2 linked regions of the Homo sapiens genome follow. The protein of the gene in region 1 purifies or fractionates together with the protein of each later gene. This does not show direct contact. Each region holds a gene or a part of one and is shown in the gene's direction. Other genes may lie near its edges.

What was found.
Region 2: the proteins of TPH2 (region 1) and DNAJC12 purify together in Homo sapiens (affinity purification with mass spectrometry; 2 studies listed by BioGRID and IntAct, with this or other methods). This does not show direct contact.

The regions. Positions count from the first base shown.
Region 1 is NC_000012.12:71,927,179-71,944,157, forward strand, and holds the start of TPH2 (tryptophan 5-hydroxylase 2), read left to right. Parts: upstream 1-11,666; 5' UTR 11,667-11,808; coding exon 11,809-11,913; intron 11,914-14,405; coding exon 14,406-14,555; intron 14,556-16,979.
Region 2 is NC_000010.11:67,828,189-67,835,188, reverse strand, and holds part of DNAJC12 (dnaJ homolog subfamily C member 12), read left to right. Parts: intron 1-7,000. UniProt on the Homo sapiens protein: Probable co-chaperone that participates in the proper folding of biopterin-dependent aromatic amino acid hydroxylases, which include phenylalanine-4-hydroxylase (PAH), tyrosine 3-monooxygenase (TH) and peripheral and neuronal tryptophan hydroxylases (TPH1 and TPH2).

The DNA.
Region 1 (16,979 bases):
ACTTTCTGAAGAAAATTAAGCTTTCTGTGTCACTTCTGAGCACGAAACAAGATTAAATTATTGGAATCTGAAAGGCTTCCATCAGTACCTAATCTCATTACCTGATACTAAGTATCTGTACTTGGACATATGTATATACACTGCCGTTTGAATAATGCAACCATATTTGGCCTGTTCTTCCCTTGGGATCTTACAATATGGGGAATTTAAGTTGTATATTTTTGAGGAGTTTTCTAATTACAGATGCTTTCCCCATTGTTGTATGCAGGCTTCTAATTTTCAGGCCATGCATCTTGACACAGGGAAAAATGGTGTGTCACCCTTAGATAGAAAGGTTGGGGGAGTGCCTGCGGTTGTACTGGACATCCACACTCTTTTTTAATATCCACAGCACCTCTTTCAGCCACCTGGGAAATTACACTGTTTATGAAATCAATGTTTAAAAGAAGTGATTGTAAACAAAAGTCTTCTAAGAACGATCAGGAATCAAGAATCCTATCATTTTTGCCTAATGTGATTCAATCCCTATTGATGAAATCAGGATGTTAGAATAATAGGAAGTGAACTATTAAGTATGCCTCTCCCTCTCAAATGATCTAGATAGTATATTGCCCCTCACATACCCCCTCTCTCTGCAAAAGATGACAGAACGAAAAGAAATTCCAGTAAGCTTTGCTGTGATCAATGAGCAGCAGTCAGTTTAGCTTAGCTTTTTAAATTAAAAAGACCTATTAACTTCTAAGATGGACTTTTACTGTGACAGTCAATAATGTGTCCAATATCACACTAGTCTGATTGGAAGCACAGGACCCAGTACAGTAGGTTGGTAGACTGCTTTAAAAATAGAAATAGAGCTATTTTTCTATGGCTTTGAGTGTTGTTTTCCCTGATCATGTAGGTACTAGAATCCCTTCCATTGGTGTAACTGACTCACTTTAGAAAGCAAGTTGCTCTCCAGTAGGAGAGCCATCAAGGTACTTCTGAATGTCAGCATTAACACTGCATGCTACCTACAGTCACTGTCAGGGGCACGAATATGGAGTACGTACCGAAAGATTTTGGCCACATGTTTTGTTAGCTAAGTCAAGTCTTAAATGAGCCAAATGTAGTATTTGCTGACTAGGAAGTAAGTCATTTGAAATTAACAGTATTTAGGCTGTACATGGTGGCTCATGCCTGTGATCCCAGCACTTTGGGAGGCTGAGACGGGAGGATTGCTTGAGCCCAGAAGTTTAATGTTACATTGAGCTATGATGGTGCCACTGCACTCCAGCCTGGGCAACAGAGCAAGACCCTATCTCTTAAAAAAAAAAAGTTAACAGCATGTAACCCTAATAGATTATATAGAGATTAAATTGTTAAGTTTTTGGAGTGAAATGTAAGTTCTTTTAGTTTTTGTACTTTTAAAAGTAATACTATTATAAACACATAGATGTCCCTTTACACACTTCTTCCCCCAAATGGACATCTGCTATTCCTTCTTTCGCACATCAAGGTGTAAAGTAGTGAAGTCTAAAAGCTGAATTTTTAAAACTTGCTCAAATATTTATCCCAAAGTTATTCAACTTTTGAATAACTTTGGGACAAATTATTCTTTTTTGATTAACAGAGCTTTTAAGCATTCTGTGTAAAAGCTAATGACTTCTTAAAGGAGGAGAAACTATAGTTCTCACTAGCTTCCTCCACATCCTACTAATAATGTTTTTCTAAACTAACCTTTGAACTTTCTGTGGAGAATGACTTTTGCCAAAGTTTTATTGACAAGTGAAGACAGGAGAAAATCCTTTTCATTGACATTTCATACCTGAAAAGCGCTTCATAAGCTACAGCTTACATAGTGGATGGGTTGTCTTGGCAAAGGCACATCTTAGGGATGGAATTTAAGGAATAAGAATGTGGTCAATTAGTTCAGATGGCAGAATTCTGAAGCCATCAGTCAGACACACTAGAATCCTTTCCCGATTGAAATTGCTTTTATCAAAAGGCAATAACCGATGCTGGAGAGGATGTGGAGAAAGGGGAACTCTCATACACTTGGTGGGAATGTAAGTTAGTACAACCACCATGGAGAACAATTTGGAAGTTAGTAAAAAAAAAAAAAAGCTAAAAAAACTACCATATGGTCCAGCAATCCCACTGCTGAGTGTACATCCAAAAGAAAGGGAATTAGAGTATCCAAGAGAGATGCGTACTCCCATGTTTATTGCAGCATGATTATAAGAGCCAAGATATGGACTCAACCTACACATCCATCAACAGATGAATAAAGAAAATGTGGTACATATACAGAATGGAATATTATTCAGCCATAAAAATAAAATTCTGATGTGACAACACAGATGTAAGTAGAGGACATGTTAATTGAAATAAGCCAGGCATGGAAAGATAAATATTTCATGTTCTCATTCATATGTGGAGGCTAAGAAAAATTGCATTTATGGAGATAGTAGAATGATGGTTACCAGAGGGTGGGAAGGGTGGTGGGGAGGTGGGACAAAGAAGGGGTGGTTAATGCGTATAAAAATACAATCAGAAGGAATAAGATCTAGTGTTTGGTAGCACAACAGGGTGACTATAGTTAACAATAATTTATTGTATATTTCAAAGTAAAGAGTAGAATTGGAATGTTCCTAATGCAAAGAAACGATAAGTGCTTGAGGTGATGACTATCTGCCCTCCCACCAAAAAAAATTCTTTCTCCAAATGTATTCCCCTTAATCCTAACAGGACAACTGAATCATTCTGAACATAAGAATACAACTTCCTTTAAAAAAACAACACACACACACACACACACACACACACACACACACACATACACAACACTTGTAGAAAAGGAGATTCTTTACCACAGAAATTCTCATTTTTATGGGTCACTCTGAATTTGATTTTGTGACACTTTTTCCCATGTCTGGATTGCTGAGGTTTCCACATCCTTCTTCAGCTCTACCCCTCAGAATTAGACATAAAGAAGTAAGTTTAGAAGAGAGTTTATTCTGTAAGAAGGTTTGAATTATAAATATTGTATTTGATAGCTTCACAATACCGAGTGGATCCATAAGAGGCCTAGCCTTGGTCCAGGGTTCACTCATATTTTAATTTCCTAAGTTTCCTGAGTTTTCCTTAAAGTCTCACATTGTCTAAGAGCATCACCATGGATTTTAAAAAATACAGTCTTCGTTGTTAAGCTTGCTTTAAAAAACTGCCGCCAGGCACGGTGGCTCATGCCTGTAATCCCAACATTTTGGGAGGCTGAGGTGGGTGGATCACCTGAGGTCAGAAGTTCAAGACCAGCCTGGTCAACATGGCAAAACGCTGTCTCTACTAAAAATACAAAAATTAGCTGGGTGTGGTGGCGGACACCTGTAATCCAGGCTAACAGGGAGGCTGAGGCACAAGAATCACTTGAACCGGGGAGGTGGAGGTTGCAATGAGCCGAGATCGTGCCACTGCACTCCAGCCTGGGCAACAGCAAGACTCCATCTCAAAAGAAGAAGAAGAAGAAAAAAAAGTAGAAGTTTTATATGCCTTATTTTTATTCTTGTTCTCTTATAATTTATATGCTATCACTGACCCAAAGTTTCTTGGCCACAATTTAGAATTGTATACCCATGTAAACTCAAATAATGTGAGCCGTGTTGATAGGTGGTACTTCAAATAATACAACTTGCTTTAGGGGCTTGTTTTCTCAAGTTCAAGGTGAATTCAGGGTGGAGTCTGGATGCCTGGGTCACCTTTATAAGGTGCTTTATATTCTTGCAAAGAATATAAAATTTATTCTATAAGCTTTGGAAGTCAAATGTCAGAAAATAATTTAGTCAAACTGAATTGTTCATATTAGAAAATGTCTACTTATGAAGTAAAACAAAAAGCTTAGACTAAGAACACAGATTGAGTCCGTCATGGGTCTGAGACCTGGTTCAGTTGCTTCTTAGTTTTGTGACCAGGCCTCTCAGCCCTCAGTTTCTCATTTGTAGATGAGGATATTACCTACCTCAGTTGTGAGGAGTAAATGGAGTACATATAAAATGTCTAATATGGTACTGGGCATGATAAAGCACTTATAAATGCTATCATTATTATTTCATGGCAACCAAATAGATACTGCCACAAACTATCTTTTTGAATCTTAAAGCTACATGGTTTGCTTTTCCTCCCCAAACATACTATCCTACAGATAGAGCCTTGAGGCACCCATTGGTTTTTTTTCTATTGACTGAGGTCATTTTGACTCCAAATCTGAACTGTGTATTCTGGTTTCTTCTGAGCCACAGCCTCACTGACCCCACCATAAATCACCATTCTTTTTATGCTTCAGTTTTCTTCATATTTGCTTAGATATGCTTGCCTTTTATCCATTCCCCCTTTATAAAAATTATTATTAAAAATGATGAAAGATGAGTGTAAGATACAGCTTATGTTTTGCTTATTTATGAAGTCTGATCACCCTCAAGTCAATAAATAATCAAAATTAAAAATGACATGTCTGCATTAAACATTTTTAGTAGTATGGGAAATTATGGTGTCTGACAGTCAGTGAACATTTTATTAGGCAACAAATTAATGCTTAATATTGTGGACAGCTGTTTTTGGTTATGCTTCAACATTAGGTCAATTTGGTCAGACTCTGATACCAAATTGTCCTGCTTGATTTCAGGTCAGATTGTATTATCTGCATGTCTAGATGGTTGACACAGCCTTCATGCAAAGTTTCAGTGCAATTTTTCTTTGTTTATCCTTTTTCCCTCTCAAAATGATAGTTTATGTAGTATTTGAGAGTAATCAGCAGGAACAAATACTTTTTTGTGTTATAAACACCATCTGTTACAATATGAGTTGAAGTGCTAAAAGCCACTTGAGTATTAATTTTCAGAAATTTTCATCTGAGCACAGTGTATCACTCATATTGACTATTGAGACTAATAATCAAGGCTTTTCACTCAAAGTCAGGAGAGATGTTGGTTTGTGCATATCTTGAAAATAAAATGGTGTTATGGAGGAGTCTGCTTGAGTTTCCTAAAGGTAAAAAATTGCATGCTTATTTCATTTCCTTTTACTGATAAGTTACAATACTACTAAATCAAGGAAGCACCTTAGATAGGCAATAAACTTATTTTGGTATGATATTCATGTGGTTAATTTGACAAAATTAGGAGCAGTTGGTAGTAATAGAGAACAATTGCTGCCAAGAAGACCAAAGTATACCCTATAATCTCTAGAAGACAAAGTTGATGGGAAAAAAATCCAGCCAAACTAATTGTGAGCTTGATTGTGTGCTATAAATATAAAGGTCAGCCCTTTCTCTTGCCTTGTTCAACATGAATTTAAGCATAGTAAGCACATGCACCAAATTTGCTTGTGACACATACTTGATAGACTGGAATGATGGCTTAAAACCTAAAGGACAAATTATTAAAGGAAAAGGAATCAGACTTTTTGTCGAATTCCAATCTTGAAACTCTCACTTTGCTTTGAGTATCTCCAAACTCTCACATCCAATATCTATCCTTTAATAACTTTACACCTGCTTTCTCCATTCACACTGGGGTGTTGCCAGGCAAATTCTCCCTTACTTTAAGTCTACTCATGTCCTTCCATTCTTTCTCCCGAACACATTTCTTTGCACTGCTGAAGCCTAGATTTCTCTTCACGACATTGCATTTCCAGCTGGCTTCTAACTTGGCCAGCATGGTGGGTGTGAGTGGTAAGGGAAGGAGAAGAAATAAGGAGTCCTCAGGCCTCTCACTTTCTGTCTATGAAATGGAAATTGGTAGGTGTGGATAGGTTGGTCTCTTCCAGTTGTGGGCCATGGATGCTTCAGCATCCCCTTGGTTGTCTTAGTTTATTTATATTGCCTTTTTCATTTCTTTGTTCATATGGGCTACAGCCTCTCAGAAGCCATTTCCATTTTTCCAGGTGTTTTAAGGACTAGTTTATAGTATTTCTCTCATTTCACTGCTTTCCTCAATGACAACAAATACCTATGTTGAGGACTCATTGGTGTTCTTAATATAAAACTTCCCTAATTTTGTGGACCCCTATTTCATATCTCAGCTGTTTGCCGTCATGGCCATTCATGATCACATGGCCCTCTTACACCTGTAAGATCTTATATTGGAGGTCTCCTTATCTGACAGTATCTCTTTTTATATTTTCCCACCCAATTTTTCGCTTCCTGATGCCTAGCCTCTTTAGCTGCTTGATCCAAGCCACTTCTGTTGGCTTACCTTGTGACTATTGACTTCTTACTTATCATGAATTATGAGGGCAACCACCTCATTAAAACCTAGGTATCCACGTCTCTTAAATTTCTGTCAAATATTGCAAACCAATGCTCAATTTTATATTACTCTGGCTTCAGAATCAATGAGGCATAGGGAGATAATTAACACTTTGAGTGTCGAATATCTGCCAGCCACCATGTTAATCACTTTATACATATACAATACAATCAGCATAACAGCCCTATAAGGTTTAGATATTATTGCCCTACTATTACAGAAATGGAGGCTGAAAAATGTGAAGTAATGTGTCCTGATTAAGCATAAGTAGGCAAATAGCAGAGTGAAGATTTAAACTTAGTTTTATTTTTAAAAATGTCTTATTTCCATGCAGTATTTATTTATTTATTTATTTACTTTAGAGATGGGGTTTTGCTCTGTCATTCAAGCTAGGGTGCAGTGGCATGACCATAACTCACTGCAGCCTTGAACTCCTTGGCTCAAGCGAGCCTTCTGCTTCAGCCTCCTGAGCAGCTGGGAATACTGCCACATACCATTACACTAGTAATTTTTATTTTTATTTTTGTCTTTTGTAGAGATGGGGTCTCATTATGTTTCCCAGGCTGGTCTTAAACTCCTGGCCTCAGCAATCATCCTGCCTTGGCCTCCCAAAGTGCTGGGATTATAGGCCTGAGCCATTATGCCCGGCATAATGTATTTTTAAAGTTTATATTTTTGTAATCAATATCACACAGGTACATGGTTTCCACAAGACTTTTTGTTATGAGAAACTGTTCCTCTCCTTCTCCCCGCCATCCATATCCTCCTACCCTCCCCAACCCCCACCAGTGGCGAGACTTTCAACTGTCAGGTCATGCTTGTGGTATTTACTTCCATATGTCCCAATGCTGTAATATGTGTATGCTGCTACTACTTTGATTTTCAGCTCTAGGCATTAACCATTGATTTTTCATCTTGGAAGACAAGAATTTAGCTGTTTACCCTCTCCCCACAGCCCCTATTATTCACATACACACTTTCTTATCTGTCTGTCTTCTAATATAATTGATATAATATTGGTTAGGTCAATATTTAGTGCTTATGTTATGACTTCGTAACTGTAATCCCCAAATGAGACATGCTCCCCTTCAGCCCTAATTTTCATTTTTCTTGGGGAGTTAATTCTTATCAAGGTTTTTTACTGGCTGATTTTATATACAGTTGTCACTAATCTAACCCCACACTCTCTACCAAATATTTAAATTGAGGCTTGTCAAATGTGAGCTTACCTACAGGGTAATCTGTTTGCATTATTTTGTTCAGAGCTTTCAATATTATCTGAGCTTTCAGTGTGTTTTAAGATCTTGCCTTTGCCAGATTCTCCAAAGATATTTTTTGTCTTTATTTGGCTGGAGAATAAATGCCTGGCTGTCAGACTTCTGAGGTTTGGGAGTCTCCATGTCATGATATCATGAGTCTCACTACCTCAATACATTCATTTAATCAGAATGGTACCCGTATTCTCAACTATGCCTGATGCTCCTAAGTACAGAGGCCCTTTGTTTTACCCTTTCCAGAGAATAACCTTCAATTTTCTACCTGGGGGCAAAAGAGGAGGTGGCTTGGCTATTTAGTCAAGGGGAATATGGAATTTTAACTCCTTTTTAAAAATAAGATAACAGCTTTATCGAGATATGATATATATGCCAAAAGATTCCCTCCCTTAAAGTGTACAATTTTGTGGTTTTTAGTATATTCACAAAGTTGTGTAAATATCACTAATATTTAATTTTATTAGTGATGAATTCTGTATGAATTTTATTAGTGATAAATTCTGTATAAAAATTCATTTTCATACAGAAACCTTGTACCTTTTAGCAGCTATTCCCCACCTCTTCTTTTTTTCCAGTCCCTGGCAGCCACTAATCTACTTTCTGTGTGTGTCTCTCTCTCTTTTTAAAACGATCTCTTTTTACATCTTCTAGACATTTCATATAAACAAAATCTTGCAATACATGCATGGTCTTTTGTGACTGGCGTCTTTCACTTAGCATAATATTTTCAAGGTTCACCCATATTGTAACATGTATCAGTACATTATTTCCTTATATTGCTAAATAACATTTTATTTATCATGTATCATTTTTTGTTTTTTTCATTAGGTGATAGTATTTGAGTTGTTTCTATTTTTGGCTATTATGAATAATGCTGCTATGAACATTCATGTACAGTTTTTGTGTGGATGTATATTTTCATTTTTCTTCGGTGTATACCTAAGGGTGGAATTGCTGAATCATGTAGTAACTCTAGTTTTACCTTTGTGAGGAACCGCCAAACGTTTTTTCAAAGTGACTACACCATTTTACACATAGCTAGGAGTGAAATTGTTGAGTCATACAGTAACTTTATGTTTTGCATTTTGAGAAACCACCAAACTGTTTCCCAAAGTGACTGTACCATTTTATAATACCACCAGCAATGTGTGAGTGTTCCACATTTTCTGCTTCTTTACCAACATTTGTTATTGTCTGTCTTTTTTATTTTAGCCATCCTAGTCGGTCAGAAGTCATACTGTGTTTTTTGATTTGCATTTCCCTAATGACTATTGATGTAGAGCACCTTTTCCTGTTTGCACTGGCCATATCTTCTTTGGAGAAATGTCTATTAATTTTTTTTTGCCCAGCCAGAGCATGATAGCAAGACCCTGCCTTTACAACAGCAACAAAAAATTAGCTGGGTGTGATGGCCTGTGCTTGTAGTCCCAGATGCTTGGGACGCTGAGGCAGGAGGATCACTTGAGCCCAGGAGGTTGAGGCTGCCAAGAACTATGATTGTGCCACTGCACTCCACTGTGGGTAACAAAGCCAGCTGTCTCAAATAAATTTTGTTTCCCAATTAAAAATTGGTCTGTTTTTTTAATTGCTGAGTTGTAGGAATTTTTTATTCTGGATACTGTTTCCTATGAGATATATGATTTATAAATATTTCCTCCCACATTGTGGGTTGTCTTTTCACTTTTCTGAGGGTGTCCTCTGAAGCACAGAAGTTTTTAATTTTGATGAAATCTTATTTTTTTCTTTAGGTACTTATGTTTTTGGTGTCCTATCTAAGAAACAATGGCCTAATCCAAAGTCAAAAACATTTACTCCTATCCTTTCTTCTAAGAATTTTAATTTTAGTTCTTACATGTGTGTTTGTGATTCATTTTGAGTTAATTTTTGTGTGCAATGTGAAATAGAAGTCCATCTTCATTATTTTGCATGTGGATATCCAAAGTTGTCCCGGGACAGTTTGTTCAAAAGATCATTCTTTCCCCATTGAATTGTCTTGGCACGTTTGTTGAAAATCAATTCCCTCTACATGTAAGGGTTTATTTCTGGACACTCAATTCTATTTCATTTACCTATATATCTGTCCTTAGTACCACACTGTCTTGATTATTGTAACTTTGTTATAAGTTTTGATTTGTCTAACTGCTTCTCACACTTTGAACCACTCTTTTTCAGTCTCATCTACCTTCAATTCCAGAGGTATTTGAGCCTTTAGGGTATTCTGTCATGTAAAGTGCGTTGCTTCTAAGTCTTCTTCATTGATAGCTTAAGGTTCAGCTTTCCCATGACTGCAAAGCCTTTGATCAGTTTTTTCTTCTTTCAAGCTGCTAATTTTTTGTTGCCATTGTTTTCCAACTTATGCGACTCTTGTGTACCTTGAAAAGGAATTTTTTATCTTGTTTTAATAGGGTTTCCAGGGTGAGCAAAAGTAGTTAAATCTTTAATATTCTAAATATATATTATAAATAAATTACTTTTAATATCTTTTTTTCCCTCATTTCCACATCCAAGCAGGGACACTATCTAGTGGATTTTATCCCTTCACATCTCTGGTTCTTTCATTACATCTCAGTAACATTAGCTACTATTATTGTCATTAGTTCATTTGCCTTATTTAAACTTGCTTCTCCTATTAGCTGATTAGAGCTGACCCTTACAGAAAATGTAAGCCAAATAATATTTTCAGAATTAGATCAATTAATAATTATGTCTCTTCAAGACTCCAGAAACAATTAAACTTCAGTCAATATTAGTTCATCCCGACTTGTTTTGAAATTTTTTTTCTATATAGACAAGCAGTGCCAGCACCAGATTTTGTTTAGATTTTCAGTCAAACAAGCACATTTGGTCAAGAGTTTTTCATTCTTCAGGAGATTGGTAACATTTTCCTGTGGCCTGGTGAATTTTATGACTTTCTAAGGTTTGAATAGTAAGAATATTGATTAATCTATGCATGTCAAGTTGCTGGATTTGATCTAGTTGACATTGATATTTGACAGTATGTTTAGTCATTAAAAGCTCAAATGTCATAGTACTCTTAACCTCTGCTTTCTCCTCACCACATAACGCACAGATCTCGTATATTTAAGTAGCACTTTTTATATGAAAGGGTCATGTCAAAGATTAAATTTCCATGATTTCCAGTAGAGAGAAAAACCACAAGAGTATTAAAATGAATGGCTGATATATGGGAATCTAGTTTCCTTTTATTTCTCATTTAGTAAGGAAGATTCCAGGATTAGTATCTGAGCTATATGTAATCTACATGTGGCTAAATTGAACCCTTACCTTTCCTTTGCAATACATTTTCCTCCATATAACTCTGCATAGAGGCATCACAGGATTAAGAAGAAGCCCTTTTATGAAAGCCATTACACATATATACACTCACACATTTGCATGCACAAAATTAGAATATGTCAAGTCAGAAAAAGCTTATTAACATAAAATGGAGTTGGTCAATGAGTAAAAAAAATATGCTGATGGGAGGGATAAGATCTAGTGTTCGGGAGCACAATAATTTATTTTCTTTTGTATTTTAAAATAACTGGAAGAGTGGAATTGGAATGTTTCTAACACAAAAAGAAATGATAAATGCTTGAGGCAATGGATATCTTGATTACCTTATTTGATCATTACACATTGTACGCTTGTGTCAAAATATCACATGTGCCTTATAAATGTGTACAACTATTAGTTATCCATAAAAATTAAAAATTAAAAAATCCGTAAAATGGTTTAAGCATTCAGCAGTGCTGATCTTTCTTAAATTATTTTTCTAATTTTGGAAAGAAAGCACAAAATCTTTGAATTCACAATTGCTTAAAGACTGAGGTTAACTTGCCAGTGGCAGGCTTGAGAGATGAGAGAACTAACGTCAGAGGATAGATGGTTTCTTGTACAAATAACACCCCCTTATGTATTGTTCTCCACCACCCCCGCCCAAAAAGCTACTCGACCTATGAAACAAATCACACTATGAGCACAGATAACCCCAGGCTTCAGGTCTGTAATCTGACTGTGGCCATCGGCAACCAGAAATGAGTTTCTTTCTAATCAGTCTTGCATCAGTCTCCAGTCATTCATATAAAGGAGCCCGGGGATGGGAGGATTCGCATTGCTCTTCAGCACCAGGGTTCTGGACAGCGCCCCAAGCAGGCAGCTGATCGCACGCCCCTTCCTCTCAATCTCCGCCAGCGCTGCTACTGCCCCTCTAGTACCCCCTGCTGCAGAGAAAGAATATTACACCGGGATCCATGCAGCCAGCAATGATGATGTTTTCCAGTAAATACTGGGCACGGAGAGGGTTTTCCCTGGATTCAGCAGTGCCCGAAGAGCATCAGCTACTTGGCAGCTCAACAGTGAGTACTACGTACCTGGCACTATGGAGAATTATTTTTTAGGGTGTGACCATCTTCTCCTCACCATATGAATCCCTTTTGTAGTGTAAGCACGCACACCTCAAATTTCTCCTTCTTTATAATCTGTCTACCCTGCTTTCCTCCTGTCTGCCTCCAGTCTTCCTCTTCTCTCCATAAGTAAAGCGAGTGTGCCAATCACTGCGTGCTCAACTTTTTTTCCGCAAAGTTTGTAAGTAGAGAGTTAAGAAGTTCCTGAACATTAAGAATGAGAGATTGTATGAATCAATGTCTTAAATCTACAGCCAAAAAAAAAAAAAAAAAAATGGAGTGTGAAGAATTTTGAAAAGCCGTTTATTATGAGGAGGAGGAGTAGGGAGAACAAATTAAATAAATTTCCACGGTTTTCAGAAGATCATTGTGTCTCCTACACCCCCTTCAGTTTACAAAGCCTGGTCTTTAAACATAGAACTATTATTTTCTCTTCTTAGTTATGGGTGCAGGTTATTGGAATAAAAGAAAGATTGGATTCCTTTCAAAAGTTTTTCTGTGTTTCACATTGCTCAATTTTTTTCAGTTTACTTGATGGAATAATGAAAGCAATACACCACTTGCTATAGTATTTAAGGGAGTTTTATGTTTATAATATCTACAGGATAAAAAAGCAGTATTTGCAGGATTTTAGATCCTGCTTTCAGGTAGTAGTCATGGGATTTAATAAAAACCACGAAATAAAAATGTATCCAGGTCCTAGTCATTAAAAATATTAAATGGTATTTTATTACTGTACTATCAGAGTTTATCAACCAAATCCAATTCAGTCTGTATCATAGAATCATCTGTTTTAATTTCGTAGCTCCAAATATGTGCCAGAGGGCTGCGTTGGACTGACATATTATTACTGATAAAAATGTTGAAAAGTAAACATGGCAACTTCTGTAGAATTATTTAAATCAATTTGCAAAAATGAGGCCAAAATGTAAATAGATTTTTTAACATTTAAATATCATGAATATTTGGATGAGATATTACAATGAAGAGTTTTGAAGTCATAATTAACTGCTAGAAGGAAAACAAAGTAAGCTCAGGGTAATGGTTAATGTATGACCCTTTTATATAAAAAATGCTACTTCTGTATGCAAGATCTGTGTGTTGTGTGGTGAGGAGGAGGCAGATGTTAAGAACACTGAGACATTTGAGCTTTTAATGACTAAACATACTGTCAAATGTCAATGTCTGCATAAACTTCTTCCCTCCCTCAAGTCATAAATAATAAAATCTCCATCTCTATTATATATAAATCTAGTGAGTAAGGCAATACTGATGTGTGAAAATAAAGCCAGTAGAGAAATCAGAAGAAGACAATGGCAGATAACTATTCACTGGGTCCCAAAGCAAACCTACATTTCTCAGTTTCATGAGGATGTAGTAGATTGGTACGATTGTATTAAATCACCATTTGCCAGGAGTTACTTCTATGTCTGCCCAATGCTGTATTTGCATATAAAGAATATAAAACAGACCACATAATTTTGCATTGTCTGTCAAATGAAAGTTTCCAGCTTGTTGTTTTTGTTTTGTTTCCTCCCATTCTATTCCTAAATAAAGTTTCCAGCTTTTTATTCTGCATTTCTGGCAATGTGACCTGAGTTACTGGAATCTGTCATTTTTTTCTTTAGCCAGCAGGATTAATAGACATTACTTCATCAGGCAATATAAAATCTTAAGTGGCTAATGAAGTGTTAATCTTTTTCAGTTTCTCAGATTTTTACTGTTTGCCCCTAATAATTAGCTGGCCAGGTTTCTTCCTTCCTGCCTTTCTCCTTTTTTCCTTTTATTTGTCACTGAATTTTAATAGTCACTTCTCAAATATTATCTTCTGACACAGATGGCCTTAGAGTTAGTTATACATGTGTCTGTGCTGAACTTTTGCAGGCAGATTCACATTGACAATGTGGATCTAACTGAAGAAAGTAATACTACCCATTAATTTCTGGGCATGTGCTGACATATTTTGGAATGAAATCGATATTTTGTTTTTAAAATTTAATTGAAACTAAAATTATTTTCAAAAATATGTTTGATCTTATTTTTAATATGGTTAGTAATTAATATAGTTTCCATAGGATTCAACGAGGCTAAGAGATCAAATTTTGTGCTGTAAAATAATCCTAGAAAGGCAGGAATTTTTCATATATGATATTGCAGGCGTTACGACAGTCAGGTTTTTGTTGCTATTAAAGTGAAGCAAATCTGATCCCCTTTTAATTTCAACCACTAGATGATGTCTTAGACCATTGGAAAATAGTGTCTCAGAATAAATTAGACCAATATTTATGACTGAAAGTTATGAGTGACACGGCAACTTCACCTTAAGTTTGTATGATTGGTGGAGCTTCCAGCTTATGAATGACATGTATGGGAAAAATCTAATTACGGAGGATTCTGGAACCCTAACTAATATTTTGTTTTATTATGCTTCGACATTCCTGAAGCTAAATAAACCTAACTCTGGCAAAAATGACGACAAAGGCAACAAGGGAAGCAGCAAACGTGAAGCTGCTACCGAAAGTGGCAAGACAGCAGTTGTTTTCTCCTTGAAGAATGAAGTTGGTGGATTGGTAAAAGCACTGAGGCTCTTTCAGGTGAATGTGAAATATCATTACATAATTTTAAAAGTGACCGTGTGCCTGGGTACAAACCTGTTATCTGCTATGAAACATTACTGAATCAATTTCTGGATAATGTGGTGAAAGATTCAAAGGAACCAAACTTCGTGAGGCTTTAAAAGGGGAGTTGTCTGTCAAGCAATGAAATAAGCAGAATTGCCTAAGCTGTGGCTTATTAATGCAGAGTTAGCTGGTTAGGAACTCTGAAGACTATTGCCAGGTTAGGAGGTCAGTACTTCAAAAACGTGAGCTTCACACCTGAAAATGAAAACACAAGAGCCAAACAGGGTATCTTAAGTAGCAAGAGCCTGCAACTTGATTTGATTTGTTCAAATTTGAATTTACACATGTCCTAGGAGCATGTTTATTATGAAAAACTGAGATACATGAATATAGGCACACGGTATTCCCCTAAGTCTCATTGTTTATGTGTCTTAATGTATCTTTTTGCGAAGATGAGTCACTCTCCTTATATTATATATTGTTGGGGTAGCTCTTCCCTTATCTTATAGAAATGTTCATAGCATCTTCTCAGGCCCAAATCTGTAGTTTGAACCCTCAAGAAAGATCCTGGTTAGGGATGAGGCTGGAAAAGCCCAGAAAAGCTGTTGTGTTCTTGCCAGCATGTACCTAATGGTTTCTGTACCCATCAGCAAACACCCTCCCTTACAAATGCATTTTGTTTGGGGGCAGTGGCGGTTGATGAGAGCTGTTAAGATAAGGAACCTAGCTCTGCGTGATGCCTTGGGCTGCTAGTGCAGTGGAAAGATAGCTGCAATTGCAGTTAGGGGGTTCAGACCTGTGTTATCCTGGCTTGGCTAAACACTAGCTGCTACTTAGGTTCAATTTCTTTATTTGTAAAATTGCATTAATAATTCCTACCTAACAGGATTGCTGGGACGACATAATATGAGTGAAAGTGCTTTGTAAAGTGTACAACTATGAGGCATTATTATGATGCCTCTATGATGATCATAGCAGGGGAATTAGAAGCCTGATTTGGCAAATAATTTCTTTTTCTCTTTTGACCTCGAAGAAAGGATCAGGCACCATAAACAGTGGTAATGGAAATCTGAGGAAATATTTTACAGACAATTATGTCATCCAAGGCTGTGTCCATACAGTGCCAACGGCAGGCCAATTCAATTAGACAGCTGGGTGCAGTGGATAAATTCCTGGAGAAGGAGTTAGCAGCCCTGAGTTTTCACTCTGCCATCAGCTAGTCACGGGGCCTTAGCTAAGCCATTTAACCCATCTGGACCTCAGTTCCCCTAAAAACATCTACTCTGCTTCAACCAAAGGTCATTAAAAGCCCAACGTGACACAATGTATGTGAAGTCTATTGGGCCTTGAACTTAATCTTAATATTATTATCAGCCAACTGAAAAAACATGCATGATATTATTGTAAAGGTTAATAAAAACAGAAATAGGACATTTAGTTTCCTCATCACAAGACCAGTTTCTTTATATAGGAGAGGGTGCTGTTTGATTTGATACTATGCTGGCACTGGAAACTATCTATCCTGTTCCTATGCTGAAAATTCTGAGATCATCTAGGATTGCATCAGGAATTGTGTTGGTAATCACAGTGTATCATCTGGAGTGAGAAGATGTCTGCTTATTTGTAGGTGGGTTGGGATGGAGAGAACAGAGTCTTCAATTAACTTAGAGGAAATGAAGAACACATCACTGGGGGAAATTCTAACCTGATTTTTAAATATTAAATCACTGCCCTTATCTCTGAGATCCATCATAGAGTGATAGTTGCAGCAACACATCCTTGGCTGAAGCTAGTTTGAAGATTGCCAAAAGAGAGCAATTATTAAATGATCCCATTTAGGGGTTATTATCATTATTTTTTTACCTTTTTTTCACCCTCCTTGCAATCATCTAAGTTGTTTGTTTTCCTTTTGCCTTCAAAGATCCTGTCTTGACTACTTATCTTGCTCCTAATTCTTTTTGTACCATATGGGTTACAGTTTGGCTAGTGTTTCCCAAGCCTCAGTCATTTCCATGCCACCTCCCCAATTTCTGCTTGCCTTTTGTACTGTCTACTTATAAAAAAATTATAAAAGCTTATTTCTGAAAGGTTATTTTAAAACTTTATTTTAAAAGAAAACTTTATATTAGGGGTTTGAGTTTTAGTTATGTTTTTCAGAAACACATAAATCTGGATATTACATGATAATATAATAAATAATTTTTTCCCCAAATAATCACGTGCCACCTGTGGGATGTGTACCACTCTGTGGGAAATGATGATGTTCATTTTACAGGGCCACTTTATATTTTAAATGCCCCTTCTATTTTTTTATGAGGCAGGACAACCTATACACAGAAGTATAAATATATAGATTTTTTATTAATGGAAATAATGGTTGGAAACATTTCCAAGTTT
Region 2 (7,000 bases), on another chromosome or scaffold:
AATTGAATTGAGACACCCACATAATACTTTTGCTTTGGTATATAGTTCTTACAATTTAAAGTTTGTGCTAGAAATTGATTAAAGTAAAATTATGTATTTTCTAATGGTTCTAGAGCAGTAATCCTGAAGCTTTTCCTTCTCAGAGAGTTTTTAAAATTATCTTTCAGAAATTGAAAATACAACCATGAAAACAAGCAATGAGACTAATTTTCTAGTTTACATAATGACATATATAAATTATGGGAGGATTTCCATGTTATATAGAAAACAATATATTCCCCATTTCAAAACAATTTAACAAAGATTGATTCCAAGACAGTTAGCCTTTCTCCCTATATTGGATTTTTTTTTTAAATTTTTGTTTCTTTGAGATGAAGTCTCACTGTGTTGCCCAGGCTGGAGTGCAGTGGCAGGATCTCAGCTCACTGCAGCCTCCTGGGTTCAAGTGATTCTCCTGCTTCAGCCTCCTGAGTAGCAGGGATTATACGTGCATGCCACTATGCCCAGCTAATTTTTGTATTTTTGTACAGATGAGCTTTCACCATGTTGTCCAGGCTGGCCTTGAACTCCTGACCTCAAGTGATCCGCCGCCTTGGCCTCCCAAAGTGTTGGGATTACAGGCATGAGCCACCGCGCCCGGCCTCTATTCCTCAGTTTTCTAACCTGTAAATGGAAGTAAATAGTACCCACCTCACAGAGTTGTGGGGATTAAATAATACGTGATATATAAAGTACTTTGAACAGTGCCTGGTGCAGAGCGCTAAGTTGTGGTGGTTGTGGTTGTGGCTGTTGTTTTGGCCCCCACAGTGTTACTGTGCACTTGGAACTTAGTACACTTATCCTATCCTTGAGTTTGCATTATTTTTAAGATGTTTTATTTTGCAATAATTTTTGACTTACAGAAAAGTTGTAAAAATAGTACAACAGAGTTCCTATATACCCTTAACCCAGCTTCCCTTTATGTTAACATCATACCTAATGAAAGTATAATGATCAAAATCAGAAATTAAAAAAAATTATAGCTCTGAGGCATTTTATTATAAAAGCTTGGTACTCATATACATAAACTAAAATGAACTTAAAATTCATCATACATTTACTTCATTTTTTAGCTTGACCTTCTAGTAAATTTCTAGCTTCACTGATTTTGGCTGCTATGATTTAAGAGTATAATTTATCAATGAGCATCTCTTATTTTCCCTTTTTTGGCAGTAGGGCTTACCCCTAGCATTAATGCTGCTTCTTGTTTTGTCATTTTGGGTTCAAACTCACCTCAGTAATAGCCACCACTGAAGGCAGATTTTGATAGACTTTGAAAAACTTGCTTTACTTGAGGCTCCATGTGCTCCATGGCTTGCAAAACATAATGGCCTGCAAATCCTGCAGCAGCAATGGTCAGTCCAACTGCTACCATTGTACTGGCCATGGCTATAGCTGGGCTCCCTTGCCTCTACCGAGAGCCTGGATCATCCCAGCCCAGAGATCATGGCCCAAAACTGCACACCTTTACCAGAGTGACGCAGCCACCGATCGCAAGCACAAACCACCAAAAAATCAGAAAATTAACATTGCTATAGTTAACCCTACCATGGTCCAGCAAACATTTTTTTGTAAAGGACTAGATAGACAGAGTCAGGACTAGAATGAGGCAAGTAGGGTGTGTAGGATGCAAAATTTAAGGAGGCACTAACATTTAGGGTTGCGCATGTACAGAAATTTGAGAGAGACAGAGAGAGAGAGAGAGAGAGAGGGAGAGGGAGAGAGAGAGGATATTTCCTTAGACCTAGGTGTCCTGCTTGCCTCACCTAATGCTGATCCTGGCATAGCAAATATTTTAGGCTTTGCAGGCCTTACAGTCTCTGTCCTAACTACTCAGCTCTGCCATTGGAGAAAACAGCCATAGACAATATAAGTGAATGATCTTGGCTGTCTTCCAATAAAACTTTAATTAAAAAACAGGCAGCAGCAGGCCAGAGTCAATCAATCCCTGATCTAAATTATAAGTCTTATCTAATTTCATCAGTTTTCCTAATAATGCCCTTTTTCTGTTCTAGGATCCAAGCCAGGATCCCTTATTACGCTTAACCCTTAATGACCTCCAATCTGATGCTTTCTTCTACCTTCTTTGTCTTTCATGACCTGGACAGTATGAAGACTACTGTCAGTATTTTGTAGAATGTCCCTCAATTTGACTTTGATATTTTCTCATGATTAGATTGAGGTTATGCATTTTTGGAAAGAACTCCTCAGAAGTGATGTTGTGCCTTTCTTAGTATCTCATGTGGGGGTGCATGAAATGGATGTGCTTTATTGACCTTGAGCACTTCGTTAAGGTGATGTCTGTCAGGTGTCTTCTGCTAGGTTTTTCCAAGGTAGGGTTATTATTTTTCCTTTTGTAATTAACAAATATCTTGGGGAAGGTACTTTGAGACTGTCCTGTTTCTTCTCAAACTTTTACTCACTAAGTTTAGCATCCTTCAGTGGATCTTGCCTGTAACAGTTACTACTATGGTGTTTGCCTAATGGTGACTTTCTTTTTCTCATTAATTTTACATTTATTAGTATTCTACAGTAAGGAAATTCTTCAGTAAGGAAAAACTATCCCTTCTCCCACATTTATTTGTTTATTTGGCTTAGTTTTATCACTATCAATTAATAGTTATTGTATTTTAAGTGTTATAACCCAAATATTACCATTATTTATTTTGTGTCTCAAATTGTTTCTATGCCTCATGACTTAATTAATTATCATTTGATTAGAGTAATGTAGGAGGATCTCTCATTTATTTCAGGGATATTGCTAATATCTGGAATTTTGTGGGAAAAATCTAGTTTTAAACTGAGTGAATTAAAATAATATATATCAATTAAATCAGTATTAAAATGAATCTTCTTTTCTTTCTTTTCTTTTTTTTTTTTTTTTGAGATGGAGTTTCACTCTTGTTGCCCAGGCTGGAGTGCAATGACGCAATCTGGGCTCACTGCAACCTTCGCCTCCCGGGTTCAAGCAATTCTCCTGCCTCAGCCCCCCGAGTAGCTGGGATTACAGGCATGCGCCACCACACCCAGCTAATTTTTTGTATTTAGTAGAGATGGGGTTTCACCATGTTGGTCAGGCCGGTCTCAGACTCCTGACCTCAGGTGATCTGCCCACCTCGGCCTCTCAAAGTGTTGGGATTACAGGCGTAAGCCACTGTGCCCAGCCAAATCTTCTCTTTTCTGCAGCACATTTTGCATCATATGAATTTCCATCACTGGAATCAATTCACTCTTAATGAATTAGCCATAATTTTCAGAAAGCTCCTATTACACTATAGTTATGTTACTTGAAGAACATCTGTCAGTCTATGATCAAGTATTTATTGAACATTTCCTGTTGGGCCAGTACTAGAAGTGACATAGGGTGGGGAACAAAACAAAACAAAACAAAAAGGTGAGACATGATGCTAGTGTATAAAGAACCTGGTATCCAATTGAGGAGCCAAAGCTAATACACAGGAAACAATTTGAGAACAATTAAGTATTGTGCTCTGTACTGTCTATAAGTGCAGCAGAAATTAAAGAAAGAATATCTGAATAGACTTCAGAAAGAGATGGGGCTTGAAATGGCCTTACTAGATGGCCATAATTTTAATGCACTGTGGGAGAGACAGGGCATTTGTATGGCTAGGAAATCTTGGAGAATATTCATCCAAGTGGGAATTGGATTAGTCTCCATGGCACACTGGAGTATTTCCTTGCTTAGACAAAAATATTTTGCTAGCAGAATATGGAAAAGATAAGTTTCTAAGTTTTAAAATTTAAGTTCTAAAATTAATATATGTTCAATAAGGAAATGTGGAATACAAAGAAAGCACAAATAAAAATGTTAACCTACATGTTTAACATTTTGGAGTATGACTTATACATGTTAATTATCTGTGCATATATGCTATATCTGTATATGTATATAAATAAGTAAATGCATATGTGTATATGTATGTACGTATGTATGTATTTTTGAGACAGATTCTCACCCTGTGGCCCAGACTGGAGTGCAATGGTGCGATCTCAGCTCACTGCAACCTCTGCCTCCCAGGCTTAAGCGATTCTTGTGTCTCAGCCTCCCAAGTAGCTGGGACTACAGGCACGTGCTACCACACCCGGCTAATTTTTTGTATCTTTAGTAGAGATGAGGTTTCACCATGTTGGTCAGCCTGGTCTCCAATTCCTGACCTCGTGATCCGCCCACCTTGGCCTCCCAAAGTGCTGGGATTACAGGCGTGAGCCACCACACCTGGCCTATGTGTATGTATTTATATGTGTATTTTTGTATGTATTTGGAGTCAGACTGCATGGGTTCAGTTCCTAGATGTGCTACTTATTAGCTGTGTGACCTTGGGAGAATTCCTTAATTTTTCTATGTCTTGATTTCCTAATCTGCAAAATGAGAATAATGATAGTATTAACCTCATACAGTTGTGGGAATTAAATGAAACATTCTATGTAAAGTGCTTAGAAAAGTGCCTGGCACATATTAAGTATCAAAAAATTTATTTATTTATTTATTTATTTATTTATTTATTTATTTATTTATTTTTTGAGACGGAGTCTTGCTCTGTCGCCCAGGCTGGAGTGCAGTGGCGGGATCTCAGCTCACTGCAAGCTCCGCCTCCCGGGTTCACGCCGTTCTTCTGCCTCAGCCTCCTGAATAGCTGTGATTACAGGCGCCTGCCACCACGCCCAGCTAATTTTTTATATTTTTAGTAGAGACGGGGTTTCACTGTGTTAGCCAGGATGGTCTCAATCTCCTGACCTCGTGATCCGCCCGCCTCAGCCTCCCAAAGTGCTGGGATTACAAGAGTGAGCCACAGCGCCCGGCCTATTTATTTATTTTTTGAGACGGAGTCTTGCTCTGTCACTCAGGCTGGAGTGCAGTGGCGCGATCTCAGCTCACTGCAACCTCCGCCTCCCAGGCTCAAGCGATTCTTGTGTCTCAGCCTCCCAAGTAGCTGGGACTACAGGCCATGCCAGGCTAATTTTTTAATTTTTAGTAGAGACAGGGTTTTGCCATTTGGCAATTGGCCAGGCTGTTCTTGAACTCCTGACCTCAGGTGATCTGCCCGCCTCAGCATCCCAAAGTGCTGGGATTACAGGTGTGAGCCACTGCACCCAGGTCAATAAATTTAAAATGATAATAATTATCATTATTATATACATATATAGTTACATAATCCCTTTTGAGATAAGACATGGATTTAAATTGCACATAATACTTACATATTATTATATGCAGTATAACATAATATATTGCACATATCTTACCTTTTCTCATAGAAATATTTAAATTTTCTCAGGTTGTTAAAAATCTTTTATGACAAGATAATTTTTTAAATGAGTAAAGTATTCTAACCTACAGTTACATTACAATCAACTATAACAAACATCCTATTATTGGACATATAGGTTGTAAGAATTAAAGAAAGAGGAGAGAAACACAAAGGGCGGCTTGACAGTCAACAGGGACAGATTTGTTTATTTATTTTTATTTTTTATTTTTTATTTTTTTGAGACGGAGTCTCACTCTGTCGCCCAGGCTGGAGTACAGTGGCGCAATCTCGGCTCACTGCAAGCTCCGCCTCCCAGATTCACGCCATTCTCCTTCCTCAGCCTCCGGAGTAGCTGGAACTACAGGCGGCCGCCACCACGCCCGGCTAATTTTTTTGTATTTTTAGTAGAGACAGGGTTTCACTGTTTTAGCCAGGATGGTCTCGATCTCTTGACCTCGTGATCCACCCGCCTCGGCCTCCCCAAGTGCTGGGATTACAAGCGTGAGCCACCGCACCCGGCCTGACAGGTTTATTTTGAATAAACCTGAGAGGGGCGGCTGGCTGAGTTAGGTTAGAGACACACTCTCCTACAGACTAAGAGTTTCTAAGGCTTCAGGGTGGGAGAGTTTATCAGAGGCTTGGACTGCTTCTCTGTCTCTTTGTTGTGCTTTTCTGGGAGGGAGAGTTGTGTGTCTGTTCCCATCCATCTTTCTGCAGCTGTAGGCATACCCCGCCCGAGTCTGCTTTTTGCTTCCCTATCTTGGTACACCTGAAGGGAAAGGAATGTGCTTATTAAGTAAGGCTCACTGTTTTACTGGGGCCCATTTTGTGAGGGTGAAGTTTGGCAGTTGCTCCAGAGACTTTCCCCCCACCTCCCTCTGCGCCCGAGCTGTCTTATTTGTGTTTTACTGTCTGCTCTTTCTGGCTGCTTGTAGTTCGAACAGAAGTGATTTCCTTGAAATGCATGAGACTAGAAAGGGAACTGGAATTTAAAGTGGCGATGTCTGTCTGAGTTGATGGTGCTCTTGCTCTATCATAGGTTTTTGTTTAAAATTTATATTTTATTCTTGGACCTTCTTACAGCTATTCTTTTCTTACCTCTGATTATCTCCTTAGACAAATTCCTAGAATTGGAATTGTTGAATCAAAGGCTAGGAAATAAATTAAAGGCTCTTCATATATATGTGTGTATATATATATATATAGAGAGAGAGAGAGAGAGAAAATAGAATATTTAACACTTTAAAATTTAAAAACAAGTCTAGATCTCAGTTTTATTTGTTATATAAGCAGGTTATGGTGACTGATGGTTAAAGACAGCACCCAGGAAGAGGAAACACATAGTTAATTACAGTTCCTAACAGGAAGTCATCTTTTCCTATTATTCGAAGGTGTTCTCAGAAGTTTAACAAAGAAAATAATAGTTATTAGTCTGGGTTTTATACATATGCCTATCTAATACAGCCTGACTTTGATTGTAAAAGTGAAGACATTCCTTATGAGAATTGACTAAGGATGACATGGAGCTGATCTACATATAGAGAGATAGATACACACATATATCTATATATAGAGAGATAGATACACACACATATATATACACACACATACAAACATATATGTCTCAATTTTTTTCAAGAAAGTCTATACCTATTTACATCCTCGCCAGCAGAGCATGAATGTTAATTTCT